Homo sapiens: one gene and its partner. The protein of the gene in region 2 binds, or shares a complex with, the protein of the main gene of each other region. Each region holds a gene or a part of one and is shown on either strand. Other genes may lie near its edges. The genes, in order: RAP1B and RASIP1. A codon is read from its position in the direction of its gene.

Region 1 (3,910 bases), on a different chromosome or scaffold from region 2:
GATCCACCCACCTTGGCCTCCCAAAGTGCTGGGATTACAGGCGTGAGCCACTGCGCCCGGCCAATATAAAATTAAGGATTCAACGGAACAACAACAAAAAGATTTAAAGTTTAGCAACTAGTAGTCTTATGTTTTTTTTTGACACAGAGTCTCGCTCTGTCACCCAGGCTGGAATGCAGTGGCACAATCTCCACAGTCTTGGCTCACTGCAACCTCTGCCTCCTGGGTTCAAGAGATTCTCCTGCCTCAGCCTCCTGAGTAGCTGGGATTACAGGCTCCCACCACCACACCTGGCTAATTTTTGTATTTTTAGTAGAGATGGGGTTTCACTATGTTGGCCAGGCTGGTCTCGAACTCCTGACCTCAAGTGATCCAGCAACCTTGACCTCCCGAAGTGCTGGGAATAGAGGTGTGAGCCACTACAACCGGCTGCAAGCAGTACTTTTAAATAAGCTTAACTAATATTTGTCTATAGAGTACTAGCATTTATGAAGTCAATACTGTACAAACGGTGTATATACTTTGGTATTTAGTTTTACCTACCGTTCCTGCAGTATCCAAGATTTCAAGCATACACTGTTGTGCATCTACTTCAACTTGCTGGTAGAAAAATTAAAATACATGTTCATTTTTTCAATGTACATAAAACTACCTTAATATACACAAAAAAGCTAATGTATCAAAAATAAGACACACAGATTTTAACAACTTTACAAACTAATATCCAGCAATACTTCAACAAAGCAGGAGGAAAAATAGCTAAGTAATCAAGATTCAAAGACCCCCAAATTGTAATCAAGTTCAAAAGCCATGTGTTCTCAAGTCAACACAGGGAAACCTACACGAACCAGTCTCAATATGGATTCTCAGCACTTAATTCTAGAGAAAAAAATAGTTTCGAAATAGCTCAAATAAACAAACAAAACCAGCAACAGTTCCAACAGTATCATAAGTAATTCTGTCTAAATTCTCCCATGATACTTTAGATATACCTCATTTCTCTAGGTAACTATATGCCCTCACCATACTGGAACAAGATTTCTGGAATTAAGGAAGCAGTGGCACAGCTATTAAATAAATTACACATATATCCCTGTTACCCCTTTCCATCTAATATTTCCTAGGGAAAAATAGGTATTTAGAATTAGATGTAGAAAGAAAAGAGTAATACTGTCTCACAGCTGGGGTGCAAAAGTTTCCAGTTTTTTTTTTGGTAGACTATGCACATGGAGGGAGGAATGGAAACACAGTATTTGTGCAACAGCGGGGCCAGGTTGGCTGCTTCATAGAGGTTGGGAAATACCTCTTTCCCTACTAAGTTAAAAATGTCTACACATTGTTTTATTGTCACATGCTGTTAGTGGACACAGGAATTCACCTTTCTATAGGCTGAGCATCCCTAATCTAAAAATCCAAAACTTGCAATGTTCCAAATCCAAAAGTTTTTGAGCCATGTGTGGAACATCACGCTACAAGTGGAAAATTCCACACATGAGCTCATGTGACCAGTCACAGTCAAAATGCAGCCAAAACTTTGTATCATGCATAAGAATATTAAAAATATTATGTAAGATTATGTGTATGAGGTGTATATGAAACCATGAATTGTTTAGATGTGGGTCCCATTCTATTTCATTATGTATATACAAATATTCTAAAATCAGAAAATAATCTGAAATCTGAAATACTTCTGGTCCCAGTTATTTCAGATAAGGGATATTCAACCAGTATTGTGAGTGGTGGCACTTTCTCAAGAGGTTAGTAAGTAGAAAGCTTAGGAAGACCTGTGTCCACCTATTTCTAGGTTAAAAAGAAGGGAGCTTGAGAGTAATCAGTCTTGCTAGGTAGGGGACTGAAAGTAACATGGGGCTACTACTTGAAATGGATGGTCTGCTTTAAAGTTTATGTGTCAAATTACAAAAAATTCTGTGAATATGTGAGAGTATGGGTGTTTATGATCCTCTTAAACTGGTAACTATGCAATGCCAGAAAGTGTAAACTTTTCCCACTAATTTTATAAATTAACTCTGCCTCCATCCTTTGTATAAAACATTCAATAATTATAAAGCTAAAATAAGTATTTATATTAAAATCAAAAGCAAAAGGCCTTCCAAAGTAATATATACCTTTCTATAAGAATCTTCTATCGTAGGATCGTATTTTTCTACAAAAATTCCTTGAACAAATTGTACAGTCTGAAAAAAAAATTAAGAAACCATTATACTTCTAAAGAAAAGAGTACATTCAATCTTTAATGTAATTGTAAACTGAGTTCACACAGGGAGTTACACCATCAATGAAAAAAAAAACCACAGCCAATACTACATTCGAATGTGTACATTTGGTAAGAAAATTACCTCAGGAAGCTGTTTATTTTTAAATAAATAATCACTATGCTCCTTATTGGGTAATTCTAAATTTAGAGATCATATATTAAAAAATTTTAAATGTCTCTGGTTTCAGTCCTTTGTTTTTTTTCTTTGAGACAGAGTCTTGCTCTGTCTCCCAGGCTGAAGTGCAGTGACGCAATTTTGGCTCACTGCAACCTCTGCCTCCCGGGTTCAGGCCATTCTCCCACATCAGCCTCCCGAGTAGCTGGGATTACAGGCATGCACCACCACACCTGGCTAATTTTTATATTTTTAGTAGAGACGGGGTTTCACTATATTGGCCAGGCTGCTCTCGAACTCCTGACCTCAGGTGATCCGCCCACCTCAGCCTCCCAAAGTGCTGGGATTACAGGCGTGAGCCACTGTGCCGGCATTGTTTCAGTCTTAAGAGCTTAAATTTGATTTTTAAATTAGAAATTGACTAATTGTTATGTATACACACATACATGCAGGATCAACTGACCTCCCCATCACTTTGGATACAAATGAAAAAGCAGTTCATTTCACATTGTATGTACTTCTCAGTTTGTTCCAAGCATGACACTTCTCAGCTAGGTGGCCTTTCTAAGTGGCCAAGATGGTTTATCTTATGAGTGAGACAGAAGGTCAATCTATTTGCTTGTGAGGCTTTGCTAAGCTCTGAACTATTCATCAAATTATTTTCCCTACGTTTTTCCTCTTTCCCAACCCTCATTACCCAGTTATGTCTTCATTCTTGCTATACCATTCCTTGATGCAGAAAACGTGCCGTTAAAAAATGTAAAGCTGGACAGTCAAAGGTAATATTTGAAGACTTTTTATAAGCTTTGATATTTTCTAACATAAAATGTACAGGGTAAGACTATTCATAAGAAGAAAGAGCAAGCCAGGCATGGTGATTTATGCCTGTAATTCCAGCACTTTGGGAGGCAAAGGTGGATTACTTGAGGCCAGGAGTTTAAGACCAGCCTAAGCAATATAGCAAGACGCCATCTCTACAAAAAATTTTAAAAATTAGCCTGGCATGGTGGCACGTGCCTGTAGTCCCAAGCATTCAGGAGGCTGAGATCACTTGAGCCCTAGCCTGGGCAACAGAGTGAGACCCTGTTTCAAAAAAATAAATAAATAAAAAGACCAAAATTTATTCCTATCTGGCTCTGAAATGCGAATGCAAAAAGACATGTATTTGTACGCTCTCAATCTCTGTGCTTAGCTCAAATTGTATTCCAGCATAACTCGTGTCATTCTGGAGTCAATGTTCCAGAGAGAATATGATCCACCCAGATATAATTAAAAGTTGAATAAAATTACAAGAAAAATATTATATTGCTTCTAAAGTCATTAAGGAATTTTATCTTAACAAAGACAAATCATCAAAACCTAAAACTCAACAGAAAAAGAACGTCTTGGAGTGAAAGGCTTAGGTAAAGTAAGAATGACTTACCAAAGCAGACTTTCCAACGCCTCCTGAGCCAAGAACGACTAGCTTATACTCACGCATGATGCAAGCTTGTCAAAACCTAGTACCTTATTAAAGGAAA
Region 2 (3,910 bases):
GATTGGTTAGAGAAAGGAACTTTCAAAGATCAGCAAATTGCTAGTGTCCTCTAACCTACCACACAGGGCGAATCCCTTAGGCCCCTGCGGACTCCTGCCCATTCCACTGGACTCCACAAACGCTCCTCAGGATCTACTACTCCGCAGACCCCGCTACACACCCCACCTCCTCCAAGGCAGTCTGAAATGCCTGCAGAAGGCCCTAACCCCAATTCGGAGCCACTTCAGGCCACTCCAAGCCACCACCAGCAACCAGCCCCCGTCCCGCCTAAGCCCCAAGCTTGGCCCCTGTAAAACTCCTGCTCAATCAACAAGCCCCACCCAACTCTCAGGCCCGCCCATCTGGCCGCCCCCGGCCCTGCTCTAGCTCTGCCTAGAGTCCAACACGCACCGTCCAGTCCCCTCCCAGTCCCCTCCCGCGGGCCCCGCCCCCAGCCAGCCCGCGAGTCCCACAAGCCCCGCCCAGGCCCCGCCCCACGGACCCCGCCTCTCTGGCACCGAGTCCCCGCCCCAGAGCCCCGCCCGCCGCTCACCTTCGCTGTCCGCGGCCCCGAAGGCCTCCTGCTCCAGGCGCCGCGCCTCCTCGCGGCCGCGCAACTCGAAGCGCCGCGCCCAGCCGGGCCGCGCCCGCCACAGCTCCTGCACCAGCAGCGGGCGCTCGGAGTCGCCCAGCACGCGCAGGTGCTCCGCCCGCCACTCGCCGCTTCCCACGCCCGCCGCCGCGGGCCGGCCCAGAGCGTCGCACAAAGCGAAGGCGTCCACGCAGCTGCTCTCGCCGGGGCCACCGCCGGGGCTGCCTGCTAGGCCGTAGCGCTCTAGCGCCTCGGCCACGAGCTCGCGCGCCGTGGAGCGCGCCGTGGCCAGCACGCTCTTGTAGTTGGCGCCCGATGCCAGTCCGGCGCCGAAGATCTTGAGGACCCCCGGAGGCGCCGTGGCGCGGGTAGCCAGCGGGGGCTCGGGGGCCACGCCCGCCGCCAGCTCCGGCAGCTTCTTCTCGCTGGCCCAGCGCTGCGCGCCCCCCGGGGTCCCAGGGCCTCCTGCGCCGCTGGACCCCGTGGTCCCGGTCCCCGAGCCCCGGAAGAGCTGGGAGATGCGCTTGGCGCGGCTACCGGAGGCTCCCCCGGCCGCCTTGACAGCGCCCACTCGCCGCAGCTCCACGTGCGGCGGGGGCGGAGGTAGCGGCTCGCTGCTGCGGCTCCCCGTGTCCGACGAAGAAGACCTGGGAGTCCGCCGGGGAACAGAGTCGCGGGAGAGAGACCCAGGACGACACGCCAAGACGGGGGTGGGGGCATATTAGGAGGGAAGTGGGCAGAGACCCAGAGGGAGGACAGGGACCCAGGGTGGATGGACGGGGCGGGGGTGAGGGTGGGGACAGACGCGAGGCAAAGAGAGAGAGAAAAAATAAATAAATAAAGGCAAGTCCCACAGTAGGAAATTCCAAGAGGTGAGCAGGGAGGGGAGGAAGGAAGGTGAATCAATCCCCCTGCTCCTTCTGTCCCCGTCCCCGTGCCCATCCGGCCTCACTCCACCTCCTAGCCTAGCTCTTACTCCCACCGCGCCCTGGTATCACTGTGCCCCACCGTCTCCCCCTGCCCACCAGCTCGTTTGCCCAATTCAGGATGAGGACCGGAGCCAACACTTTGCAGGGACTGGGCAGTGAACAGGGACAGATGGGAAGCAGGTGTGCAGGGGCAGGAGTCCTGCAGAGATGGCACTCACTTGACAGAGGCTGCGCTGGGCCAGCGCCGCCCCAGCTTCGCCAGCTGCTTCCTGGGGGAATTGATCCACAGGCCCACGGGGAGATGAAGCTTCCCGAAGCGGGGGCTTCCGCCCTCCTTCCGTTCACCAGACAGCATGGCCCTAAGGGAAGGCGGGTAAGGCCCCAACTCCTAAGGCATTCTTGTGGGGATGGGGTGGAGGGAACCTGGACTCCGAGTCAGAGGGAGGAGGGGGCTGGGGCTCAGACTTGCGAGTCCAGGGGGAGGAGAGGGATGGTACCCTGGATTCCTGGGTCCTGGGATGGAAGATGGCTGGGGGACTGAGTCTTGGGGCCCAGGGAGGAGGGGTTTGGGCTGCTGGGTCCCTGGCTCTTACCCTGCTTCGGGTCCGGCACACCCGGAGGCCCTGGCTCCACTGGCCTGGGTCAGTTCCACTGCTCTTGCCTCTGCCACGGCTCCCAGCACTGGGTGGGGGACAGGAAAAGGCAAGAGGAAACCCGGCAGGAAGAGCGGGGAGGGGGCGTCCTGTGAGGAGACCAGGCCTGGGGGAGGAGATCTGGGTAGGGTTGGCCCTGCCCCATTCCTTGATTCTGGAATTACATCGCAGTCAGTTGGTCCCCTCCAGGACCCAAGGGTCCCGGTTTTCTGCCCTTCCTCCCTCAGGCCGGAGCCCATCCCCAGACCTCTCCTCTCGGGGAACCAAAGGCTAGAATCAGTCCCGTCCCGGGGAGTGAGTCAGATGCTTAGACAACAAGATAAATCTTTATTGTTGCCTCGAATCTGTGGCCTTTTCTTTTGGGACCTGGGTTTGCTCGGCCGCTCCACTGCCAAGGCCAAACAGTGAGGATTTGATGAAATCGATCACCTTCCTTCGACGAAATATCCTAGGGGTGGGAGTGGGGTGCAGATCATGGAACCGGTTTGGGTACTAATTGTGTGGGGGACACCCCTCCCAACCTCCCCCTTTGTGACCTTATTCTAGCAATTACCTAAGCCTCGCCCTTCGAAGTCCTCCTATTCAAGCCCCCCGCACTCCATCCCCAGGAAAGTCCTGCTCTCAGGCCTCAGTAGCCCCCAGACCAGCTTCTGTGTTGGGTTCCTGGAAGCCCCGCCCCTTACTCCAAGCCAAGCCTGTCTTCTTCAATGGGTTGCTTACGCAAAGGTAAGGCCGGTTATCAGTGCTAGGGAGCCGCAGATCAGCAGCCCCAGAAGGCGGCTTGCCAGCATTTTCTCGGGCTGCAGAGGCTGGAGGCTTATGGACGACTCCGTGGTCGCCTCCCCCGGGGTTACGATATTTGGAGAAGGTTTTTCCTCCTTGATCATTTTGGGCAACACTGTTAGAGAAAGCGTAAAGAGCAGTCCTGGCAGGGCGTGGAGTTCCTGCCCTGGCAAAGACAAGCCCGTCCCAGTAGCCGGCCATCCCAGAGATAATCACGCCTTCAACAGTGTCAAGCCTGAACACACCCAAGGGAACCCCTGTCCTCGGGGCCAGAGGCCACGCCCCCGGCAGGAAGCCACACCCCGTGCCCCGAAACCACACCCAACAGGAAGTCACGCCCCCATCGCCAAGGCCACGCCCCCGCCGCGGACCCCAGCTTTCCTGGGCCCTGAATCCTACACTTCTCTCAGCCCCACAGCACTGACCTGTGACGTGAAAATTGATGATCGTGGCTGGGCTGGAATTCACAGAGCCCAGCTCGCAGCGGTAGCTGCCTGCATCCTCTGGACCCACCATGGGCTTGGTCAGGGTGGCCTCTTTCCCCTTGGACACCAAGGTCTCCGTATTGTTCCCCCAAACCTAGACCCAAGCTCAAGGGGTCACTGAGGCCTGAGGAATTCAGGGGTTGGGGGAGTACAGGGGTGAGAAGATCACAGGGCCTCAGTGTGGGAGGTGAGTGTCCAGGGTGTCACTGGTCAGGGCACGGGGTCCCCAGAGGTCTGTAGAGACCACACCTAATAGACCACCCTCCTGGGTCATGAGAATCGTGGGTGCAGGCCCATAGATCCAGAACACAAGTATTGTAGTCTAGGGAGTTCAAGGGTTACAGAAGTTGAGGCCCTCACCCTGTAAAAGCTGTAATCAGTGAGGCCTTCCGAAGCCTGATGCCAGTTTAACTCACAGTCCAGGATCATGTCTTCCATTTGAGGAACTTCCACATTCCGCTCTGGGGGTGGGGGATGACCATGGGACA

Evidence for each region.
Region 1: the proteins of RASIP1 (region 2) and RAP1B are in contact, whole or in part, in a crystal structure (PDB 5KHO), measured with the Homo sapiens proteins. Residues at the interface, in NP_060275.2 of Homo sapiens: Val147 (codon at 918), Lys149 (codon at 912), Ala156 (codon at 891), Ser157 (codon at 888), Gly158 (codon at 885), Ala159 (codon at 882), Asn160 (codon at 879), Tyr161 (codon at 876), Lys162 (codon at 873), Ser163 (codon at 870), Val164 (codon at 867), Leu165 (codon at 864), Glu181 (codon at 816), Arg182 (codon at 813); in NP_001010942.1 of Homo sapiens: Val24 (codon at 2,183), Gln25 (codon at 2,180), Asp33 (codon at 2,156), Pro34 (codon at 2,153), Thr35 (codon at 2,150), Ile36 (codon at 2,147), Glu37 (codon at 2,144), Asp38 (codon at 2,141), Ser39 (codon at 2,138), Tyr40 (codon at 2,135), Arg41 (codon at 2,132), Glu54 (codon at 567), Leu56 (codon at 561), Phe64.

The regions. Positions count from the first base shown.
Region 1 is NC_000012.12:68,648,685-68,652,594, reverse strand, and holds part of RAP1B (ras-related protein Rap-1b isoform 1 precursor), read right to left. Parts: intron 3,897-3,910; 5' UTR 3,871-3,896; coding exon 3,814-3,870; intron 2,196-3,813; coding exon 2,127-2,195; intron 601-2,126; coding exon 544-600; intron 1-543. UniProt on the Homo sapiens protein: GTP-binding protein that possesses intrinsic GTPase activity. Contributes to the polarizing activity of KRIT1 and CDH5 in the establishment and maintenance of correct endothelial cell polarity and vascular lumen.
Region 2 is NC_000019.10:48,738,427-48,742,336, forward strand, and holds the start of RASIP1 (ras-interacting protein 1), read right to left. Parts: upstream 2,185-3,910; 5' UTR 2,095-2,184; intron 1,861-2,094; 5' UTR 1,857-1,860; coding exon 1,720-1,856; intron 1,220-1,719; coding exon 534-1,219; intron 1-533. Other genes in the region: IZUMO1 (izumo sperm-egg fusion protein 1 isoform 1 precursor), read right to left, coding at 2,482-2,602, 2,875-3,052, 3,363-3,516, 3,783-3,883. UniProt on the Homo sapiens protein: Required for the proper formation of vascular structures that develop via both vasculogenesis and angiogenesis.